Regions from separate parts of the Homo sapiens genome. Here all the other regions are linked to region 3. Evidence: fine-mapped expression QTL. A gene starts in region 3. Each other region holds a variant in brackets. All regions are shown on one strand. Distances are from middle to middle. Region 1 overlaps PAQR8 (progestin and adipoQ receptor family member 8). Region 2 has its middle 28 kb from the start of PAQR8. Region 3 holds the start of PAQR8 (progestin and adipoQ receptor family member 8).

Evidence for each region.
Region 1: its variant is fine-mapped to the expression of PAQR8 in whole blood (TOPMed, PIP above 0.99).
Region 2: its variant is fine-mapped to the expression of PAQR8 in NK cells (Gilchrist 2021, PIP 0.95).

The regions. Positions count from the first base shown.
Region 1 is chr6:52,389,682-52,392,441 of GRCh38, reverse strand. All of the region lies in intron 1 of PAQR8 (progestin and adipoQ receptor family member 8), which reads right to left. Among named protein-coding and RNA genes, the nearest start is that of PAQR8, 29 kb to the right of the region's middle. RefSeq lists enhancers at 2,177-2,386, 1,028-2,760. The variant A/G (reference allele first, on the strand shown) is at 1,228.
Region 2 is chr6:52,332,468-52,335,227 of GRCh38, reverse strand. No RefSeq gene overlaps it. Among named protein-coding and RNA genes, the nearest start is that of PAQR8, 28 kb to the left of the region's middle. The variant A/G (reference allele first, on the strand shown) is at 1,224.
Region 3 is chr6:52,360,741-52,363,500 of GRCh38, reverse strand. PAQR8 (progestin and adipoQ receptor family member 8) reads right to left here and starts at 1,350. Exons shown (of 2, transcript NM_133367.5): 1 at 1,252-1,350. RefSeq lists silencers at 1,098-1,587, 1,761-1,946.

The sequences.
Region 1 (2,760 bases), 29 kb before region 3:
AATAGCTGATTCCCTGGAAAGAACACTGGGCAAGAAATTAGAAGTCCCAATGTTTAGTTCTAGCTCTATCACTATGTGACACTTTTTTTTTTTTTTTTGAGATGGAGTCTCGCTCTGTCACCCAGGCTGGAATGCAGTGGCGCGATCTTGCCTCATTGTAACCTCCGCCTCCTGGGTTCAAGCAATTCTCCCGCCTCAGCCTCCCGAGTAGTTGGGACTAAGGGCGCACACTGCCACACCCAGCTAGTTTTTTTTGCATTTTAGTAGAGACGGGGTTTCACCGTGTTGCCCAGGCTGGTCTCGAACTCCTGAGCTCAGGCAATCTGCCCGCCTAGGCCTCCCAAAGTGCTCTAAGTGATTTTTAAGCAAATTATTCAACCTCTCTATGCCTTGGTGCCCTTGTCCTTAAGATGGGGGTGTAATCTATATAAGCTCTAATACTGTAAAATTCTGTAATTCATCTGGGCTATGTTTTGCTTTGTACTGAACATCAAGCAGCATGCTGGAATCACCAACAAACAGATCCTGTGACATCACTTCATGTCACTGTGTGTGGGACTCACACAGATGGTAGGAAAGTGACCTGCTGGTTGTTGGATAGAGGACAAATGAGCAGCAATTCCTATCAAAGGCAAAAGAAATGCTTCCAGAATTCACAGAAGCCCAGCTTCACACATCACTGCATAATTATAAATGGCTGCAAAGGAATAGCAGCCAAAATGACAACTTGGTGTCCATTTATAAGGACTGGAACTGTGCTTTAAGCAGCCTTTGAGCCAGAGGTGGAGTTGGAAACAGTCTCACATGCCTCAGGATCTCCATAGTCGTTAAGTGAGAGAACTCTGGGCTCATACTGATCTTTATAGCTACATCTTCCAAGGAGCATATCACTATTTGTAAAGTCATATTTGAAAGAATGGCACTACCAGTGCAATCCTGTTATTAGCAGAGATCATTTGAACATCGATTCAGATTCACCAATGGTCAGTGCATATTTCCTCCCTATATTTAACAAAACCTAACAAACAGAATTTCGACATCCAAAAATGGAGTATTTGATTGTGTAAATTAAGATAAATCTATAAAATAGAATACTATGCACTTATTAAAATAACTAGCATATTTACATTTATTGTTATACAAAGATACACATGATATGTGAGCTCCATTGGTTTTTCACTGTAGTCTCCACTGCACTTAGAAAAGTGATGGACTAGCACATTGTAC[A/G]TTCTCAAAAAAGATTTCTTGAATGAATAAATGAGTCAAAGACATGTAAAGGAAAAAACAAATTTAAAGTATGTGTTCCGCCCAGCCCTATTTTTGTAATCATACAAACATGGTACAGATGAAGTATGGAAGTGCATATAATCAAAACAATATAGCTATTGCCATGAAGGGATTGTGGGGAATTTTACTTTTCTTCTGGAAATACTATCATTATCGTACTTTTTAACAACAAACATTTACTACTTTTGTAATTGGAAAGCAAAAGTTAGTACTACTCTGCAAATAGGAATATTTGACATAAATATGCAAAAATTGGTAAAACCTAAGTTGGTAAAATATTAAGACCCTCCCCAAGAAACACCCCAGCATTATAAAGGAATACACCCATACTTGCATTTTTCTGTGAGCTCAACTAGTTAGCATACCAAATTAATTATTACGAGTAACCTAACTATACTTGCCATAGGGTAAGCTATTGGTCATGGGGGGTTTAAAGGGAAAAAAATATGTAACATCTACTGTTAATGCAGCAAAGATGTTCTCTTAGATTGGAAAAGCCAGTATACACAATATTGTCAAAAGACCTTCCCCACAGCACACAAACTCAAACGGCATTAATACGTGAGTCACTTCCTGACCATGTGGGTTTGTGGTACGGCTGAACCGTGCCTATAAAAAAAAAGTAAGGTACACCTTTTTGCCACAGATCTGGCAGCAAGATGTGTCCTTCTGGGCTCAGTGAGCTCTCCACTTATGAATCTTTTCCTCTGTGGTGCCCTATAATATTCCTAAGAGGAGAAAGAAAAGACAGCCTTAATTTGTTGCTGTGCCCTGGGAAAGATGAGCAGAGCAAATTTCCTCTGAGTGCCTTTTTCTCTTTATCTAACTAGAACCCTCTAGCTAGAATTTCTGTCTGTTCTGTCACTTCCTATACTTTCCACATCTCAGCTAATCTCACTTGAGAAAGTACTGGTTTCAAAATGCATCATTACAGACAGAGAATGCATCTGCCACATGGAATAAATAGTATCTGTGTTTAATCTGTCGAGTGGGAGAAGTCAGAGGAGCTGGGAACAATTTACTGGGAGAACACACTGAGCAGTCTCCAGGCAATCAACAGTTCAGGTGTGAAGATCATGTTCTTCTGAGGCTTCTTGTTTGAGTAAAGGTAAACTTTGCTGTCTGAAACTCCCACTAATTAAAGCCTAGGGACAGGTGTCTCCCTGGACTTTCTACATGAGTGTAACTATCGGCTTCGTTAGGTGTGGTTTGGCTTCAGTCAGGCAACCTCTCAACTAGATCTAGCTTCTCACCGGCAGGAAGCTTCATCACTGATCTGCAAACCAGCTGGGACCCGGGCCAACCCGGGTGAACGTGAAGAGAGCTGCTCATTTCCACTGGCAGGAAATCAATCTTGGAAATGCCCTTTCCACAGCAGAAAATCAGATAACAAATCGAGCTAGAGTTTGGAGCACCATATAAAGAAAGCTGTGTTCCCTAGCAATTAAACATTAACTCTTCTGCAGTGACAAC
Region 2 (2,760 bases), 28 kb after region 3:
GAAATACACCAAGCACTGAAAGACAAATACCGCATGATCTCACTCATGTGGGAGATAAAATAAATTTTTTGAGCCCATGGAAGTAGAGAGTAGAATTGTGAGTATTAGAGGCTGGGAAGGGTGGGTGAGGGAGGGGAGGAGGGTGAGAGTTCTGGTGCTTTGCGAATGTGGTTAATTATAATTTATTGTATATTCTCAAAAAGCTACAAGATGATTTTGAATGTTCACAACACAAAGAAATGGTAAGTGTTTGAAGTGATGATATGCTAATTACCCTGATTTGATCATTACTCATTGTATGCATGTATTAAAATAGCACTCCAGCTGGGTGCGGTGGCTCACGCCTGTAATCCCAGCACTTTGGGAGGCTGAGGCAGGCTGATCACAAGGTCAGGAGATTGAGACCAACCTGGCTAACATTGTGAAACCCCGTCTCTACTAAAAATACAAAAAATTAGCTGGGCATGGTGATGCGTGCCTGTAGTCACAGCTACTCAGGAGGCTGAGGCAGGAGAATCGCTTGAACCCGGGAGGCGGAGGTTGCAGTGAGCTGAGATTGCACCACTGCACTCCAGCCTGGGTGAAAGAGCGAGACTCCATCTCAAAAAAAAAAAGAAAAAGAAATAGCACTCCATATCCCATCAATTTGTACAATTATTACATGACAACTAAAAATAAAAGGAAAAAGCAAAGCAAAGAGGCTGGAGAGAAAGGAGTGTAATTCCATCCCTTTGTGGTAGTGGGGGTCCAGTAGGAGGCTGGGCTAGGCAGGGAAGCAAGGAACTCACTTGCCCAACTCCAGGGATTTCAGATCTTCCTGTTTGTACAAGCAGGTGGTTTATTTCTAAATAAGCTATTTTGGATTCTTACTTTGCATAGAGTTTGTACATGTTTTCTGCAAAAGCCCAGGCAGAGGCCTCTGGGAGGGGAGTTTGGTGATGAAGTCAGCCAGAATGAGGCTTTTGATATATGGAACTTTTGCCTGATTTCAAGCAATATATCTTCTGCTCCCTTTATTCTTTCCACTTTCTCAGCTCCACCAGCCACATGGTTTTCTTTTTTATCCAACAGGTATAGGTGAATCAACTGCCTCTCTATGGTAGAGTGTCTATTATTCTAACAAGGGCCAGCCCCAGGAAAAACTGCAGCAGTTGAAGTTCAGCTTCTCCTCTTCCTCCCTACCCTACCAACTCTGTAGCACAATCTAGTTGTCAAGGAACCCA[A/G]AACATTTGTGGTTTAATGTGTGACCTTTCTCACAGTGTTTTCATCCTGATAGGCCTGTTACATTTTGCTTTCCTGTGCATTTTCTCATTTGGCCAGCAACCCTGTGAATAAAACACTCGTGAGCATTATCTCCCAAAAGGTATTTTGGACCACTTATGAAATTAACTGTCATCTTCTGAGAGCTTGCTACCTGCCAGTCACTGTGCTGAATGCCTTACATACCTCAACTAATCGTCATAATCACTGTGAAGCTGATACTCTTATCCCTAATTTCCAGAGGAGAAAGCTAGGTATACATAACTTGCCCAAGGTCACACAGCTAACTAGCGGCAAAATCAGGATTAAAGCCTGGGTCTGACCAAGTCCAAATCCTGTGCTCTTATCTCTTTCACCATTCTGCCTGTGCAGAAGGCAGGACAGGTATTAGTATGCCTGTTTTCTTTGTCTTTTCTTTCTTTCTTTCTTTCTTTCTTTCTTTCTTTCTTTCTTTCTTTCTTTCTTTCTTTTTCTTTCTTTCTTTCTCCTTCCTTCCTTCCTTCCTTCCTTCCTTCTTTCTCTCTCTCTCTCTCTCTCCTTCCTTCCTTCCTTCCTTCCTTCCTTCCTTCCTTCCTTCCTTCCTTCTCTCTCTCTCTCTCTCTCTCTCTCTCTCTTTCTCTCTTTCTCTCTTTCTCTCTTTCTCTCTTTCTCTCTTTCTCTCTTTCTTTCTTTCTTTCTTGAGACGGGGTGTCACTCCATTGCCCAGGCTGGAGTGCAGTGGCTCAATCCTAGCTCACTGCAGCCTCGACCTCTTTAGCTCAAGCAATCCTCCCACCTCAGCCTTCTGAGTAGTGGGGACTACAGGTATACATCACCATACCCGGCTAATTTTTGTATTTTTTTTTAGAGATAGCGTCTTGCTATGTTGCCCAGGCTGGTCTTAAACTCCTGGGCTCAAGCAATTCTCCCACCTTGGCCTCCCAACGTGCCGGAATTGCAGGTGTGAGCAGCTGCACCTAGCCATATGCCCATTTTCTAAAGAACTTTTTCTCTTTTAAAATGGAATTTCAGAGAACTATTTCACAGAACTCCCAGTGGCAGAGTTGGGGCTAGAGCCCCTTTAATAGATGACGACAGAAGAAAAATTCCTACCTCCTGATTGGGCCACCATGTAGGCTTCTAGGCACAGTAATAGGAAATGTAAAAACCTTCCTGTACCTCTCACATCATGTAGTCAGCACCTGACTCTTACTTCATAAATTGAGTCCACGTGGGGCGTGGTGGCTCACTCCTGTAATCCCAGCACTTTGGGAGGCTAAGGCGGATCGATCACAAGGTCAGGAGATCAAGACCAGCCTGGCCAACATGGTGAAACACCATCTCTACTAAACATACAAAAATTAGCCGGGCGTGGTGGTGTGTGCCTGTAATCCCAACTACTCAGGAGGCTGAGGCAGAGAATTGCTTGAACCCGGGAGGTGGAGGTTGCAATGAACCGAGATCACGCCACTGCACTCCAGCCTGGGCCACAGAGCGAGACCTGTCTCAAAAAAATTAAGT
Region 3 (2,760 bases):
CTAAAAATCACACATACAGTGTATTGTATGAGTTATCCCTAAGGCGCGCACACACACGGGTAGGTATTACCTGTACATTTGAAATCTCACTCCATAACTAATTTTTTTAGCCCAGGCTCTTCTCATTGGGTTCCTGGACAAAATCATTTCTAACCCAGCTAAGAAATATGGAATGCAACTTAGGTCAAGACAATGAGCCTGCCAAGGCTCCTGGACTTCCCACTAGTCTGCCAGTGCCTGGAGCACCCACAGCTGCACAGGAAGCTGCTGTGCCCGGCTACCTCCAGGTCCCCGCACCGGGTCGGCAAGGTGCAGCAGCCCCCAAACCCAGGCTCCGAATATTCCCCAAGCGCGCTGAGTGCGAGGTCCCCACCCGCCTCCGTCTGGGGATGCCCGGTCTTGCTCCCTAGACTAGATTCCCTCTCGAGTTATCTACGACCCTGTTCCACCGAGGGCGCTGCGTTCTCATAGCCTAGACAGACGTTCCCAGCGTTCCAGCCCCACCAGCCACCTCCGACACCCCACCGCGGCGTTCCCATCCAGCCAAGCCCCAGCATCCGCCCATTAGCCAGCTGCCGGCGGTTCCCATCACAACTCCGCTCCTCGCGCCCACCCTCTCAGAGAAGCCCCCTCCATCTTTCCCCGGCGAAAGCACATGCCTAGACCCACCCTACTCTTTCCGGGGTTCCCCTACCTCGGGCTGCCCTTCCTCGGGCTCTCCCTACCGCCCCGGGCTTCCTCTCCTCCGCACTCCCCTCCCAGGTTCCGTTCCCCTCCGCCCTGCGGAGGGCGCCCCACAAATGCGGACAGGACGCCCCTCGTTCTGCCCTGTCGGACTCCCCCACGTCTTGGTCCTGAATCTCCCGCCCTCCGGGCTCAGCCTTCCCAACATCGCGGTCCCCACACCCCCGCCAGCTCTCCAGGCTCAGGCTCCATGACTCCCCAGCATCGCAGTCCTGGCCACCCCACTACAGCCGTTCAGAGCTCCAGGGCTCCCCAGCATCCTAACCCGTCGTCCCCCCTTCCGGGCTTGGATTCGGAGACTCAACATCGGGGCCCTAAACTCCGGCCCCTGGCCTCAGGTTCCCAACGCTGCGACTCTGGACCTCCCCTCTGAGCTCGGGGTGCGAGGACTCCCCAACGCCGCGATCCTGACGTCCCCGCCTCCCGAGCTCGGGCCCCGGGGCTCCCCGACCTCGCGGTCCCAATACCCAACTCGACCCGTTCCGCGCCTCCCGCGGCGGGACTCACCGGCAGGGGCGGCGGCCGAGCCCGTGCGCGTAGCCCAGCCCGGCCCAGCCCGCGCTCCCGCCTCGGGGTCCCGGCCACGAGCTTCCCGCGGGTGGCTGTGACCGCGGCGGGCTCGGCTCGGGGGAGCGGCCGGGAGGAGGAGACCGCCGGGGGCGGGTGACGCCCAGCTCCGCCCCTTCCCGACCCGGGGGCGGGATGCGCAGACCCGCGCGCTCCGCTGCAGCCCGCGCCGCTGCCGCCGCTGCGAGGAAGTTGACTGACGCCGCTTCCTTCCACCCAGGACGCAGACCCTCGCAGTCCCTGGTAGCTGCAAAAAATCCGGAGAGTTTGAGACAGAGACGCCTTAACCGCCCTCATATTCTTTCCAAGAATTCACCTCTCAGGGGGCCATTTCCGAAGTCCCTCGGGAAGGGCGGAAAACAATAACAAACTTCATCTGCGCTGTCAAGACTGATTTAAATCCTGGCCTTTCTCTCACCACTCTCGGGTGAACGTTCAGGGTCATGCCCATGATATAAATAATGTGATGACATACCACGGAGGCCCTTGCAGACACTTCCACACCCCTAAGATACACCCGCCCAAGACTCGCGCCTCTCCCATGACTACATCACACAGACACATCTGACACTGACCTGCAGAAGATCCCACTTCTACCCTGTGTCCTCAATCCACAGCCTTCGTGGGTCCCAGCAATAGCGACCCACACATACAATCTATTGGAGGCAGGGTGCGGGGGTGGGTTCCACCTCCCGACTTGCTCCTCACCCACAATGTTCTCGGTATTTTACCATGAGAAAAAGACAGTTAAGAAGTTGGATGATCAATTAACAAATCAAGTTGGCTTTGCTTTTAAAAAGCCTTCTTCATTATCTGGAGAAAAGAGAAGGCCTGGGAAGATGGCCTGCTTACTGTAAGATTTTGTCAGACAGGCCTAATTCTGGTCTGCTTACTGTAAGATTTTCTCAGACGGCCTAATTCTGGTCTGCTTACTGTAAGATTTTCTCAGGCCTAATTCTGGTCTGCTGGTTCCCAAAACTTCTCTTATACCACCGTGTTTCAGTGACATGTTGCACAACATCTCACATTTGTACAATGTTTCCATTTTTCAAAACATTTTAGCCGAGTGTGATGGTTCACACCTGTAATCCCAGAACTTTGGGAAGCCAAAGTGGGCAGATTGCTTAAGCCCAGGAGTTCGAGACCAGCCTGGGTAACAAGGTGAGACCCTGTCTCTGCAAAAAATACAAAAATTAGATGGGCGTGGTGGCACACGCCTGTAGTCCCAGCTACTTATTCTCAGGCAAACATCACGAAGCAAAGAAAGTAATCTTAGCAGGATTATTTCAGTTCCATAAATGAAGACATTTAGACTCTGAGCAGTTGCACGGCAGGTTTGAAGCTGAGTCAGAGCCAGGAAAGAGCCCAGGGGCCTGTCTTTAGAGCCACTGATCTCCCCAGGGAATCATAGTCCAGCACTTACTTATAGGTGGATACTAGTGGAAATGT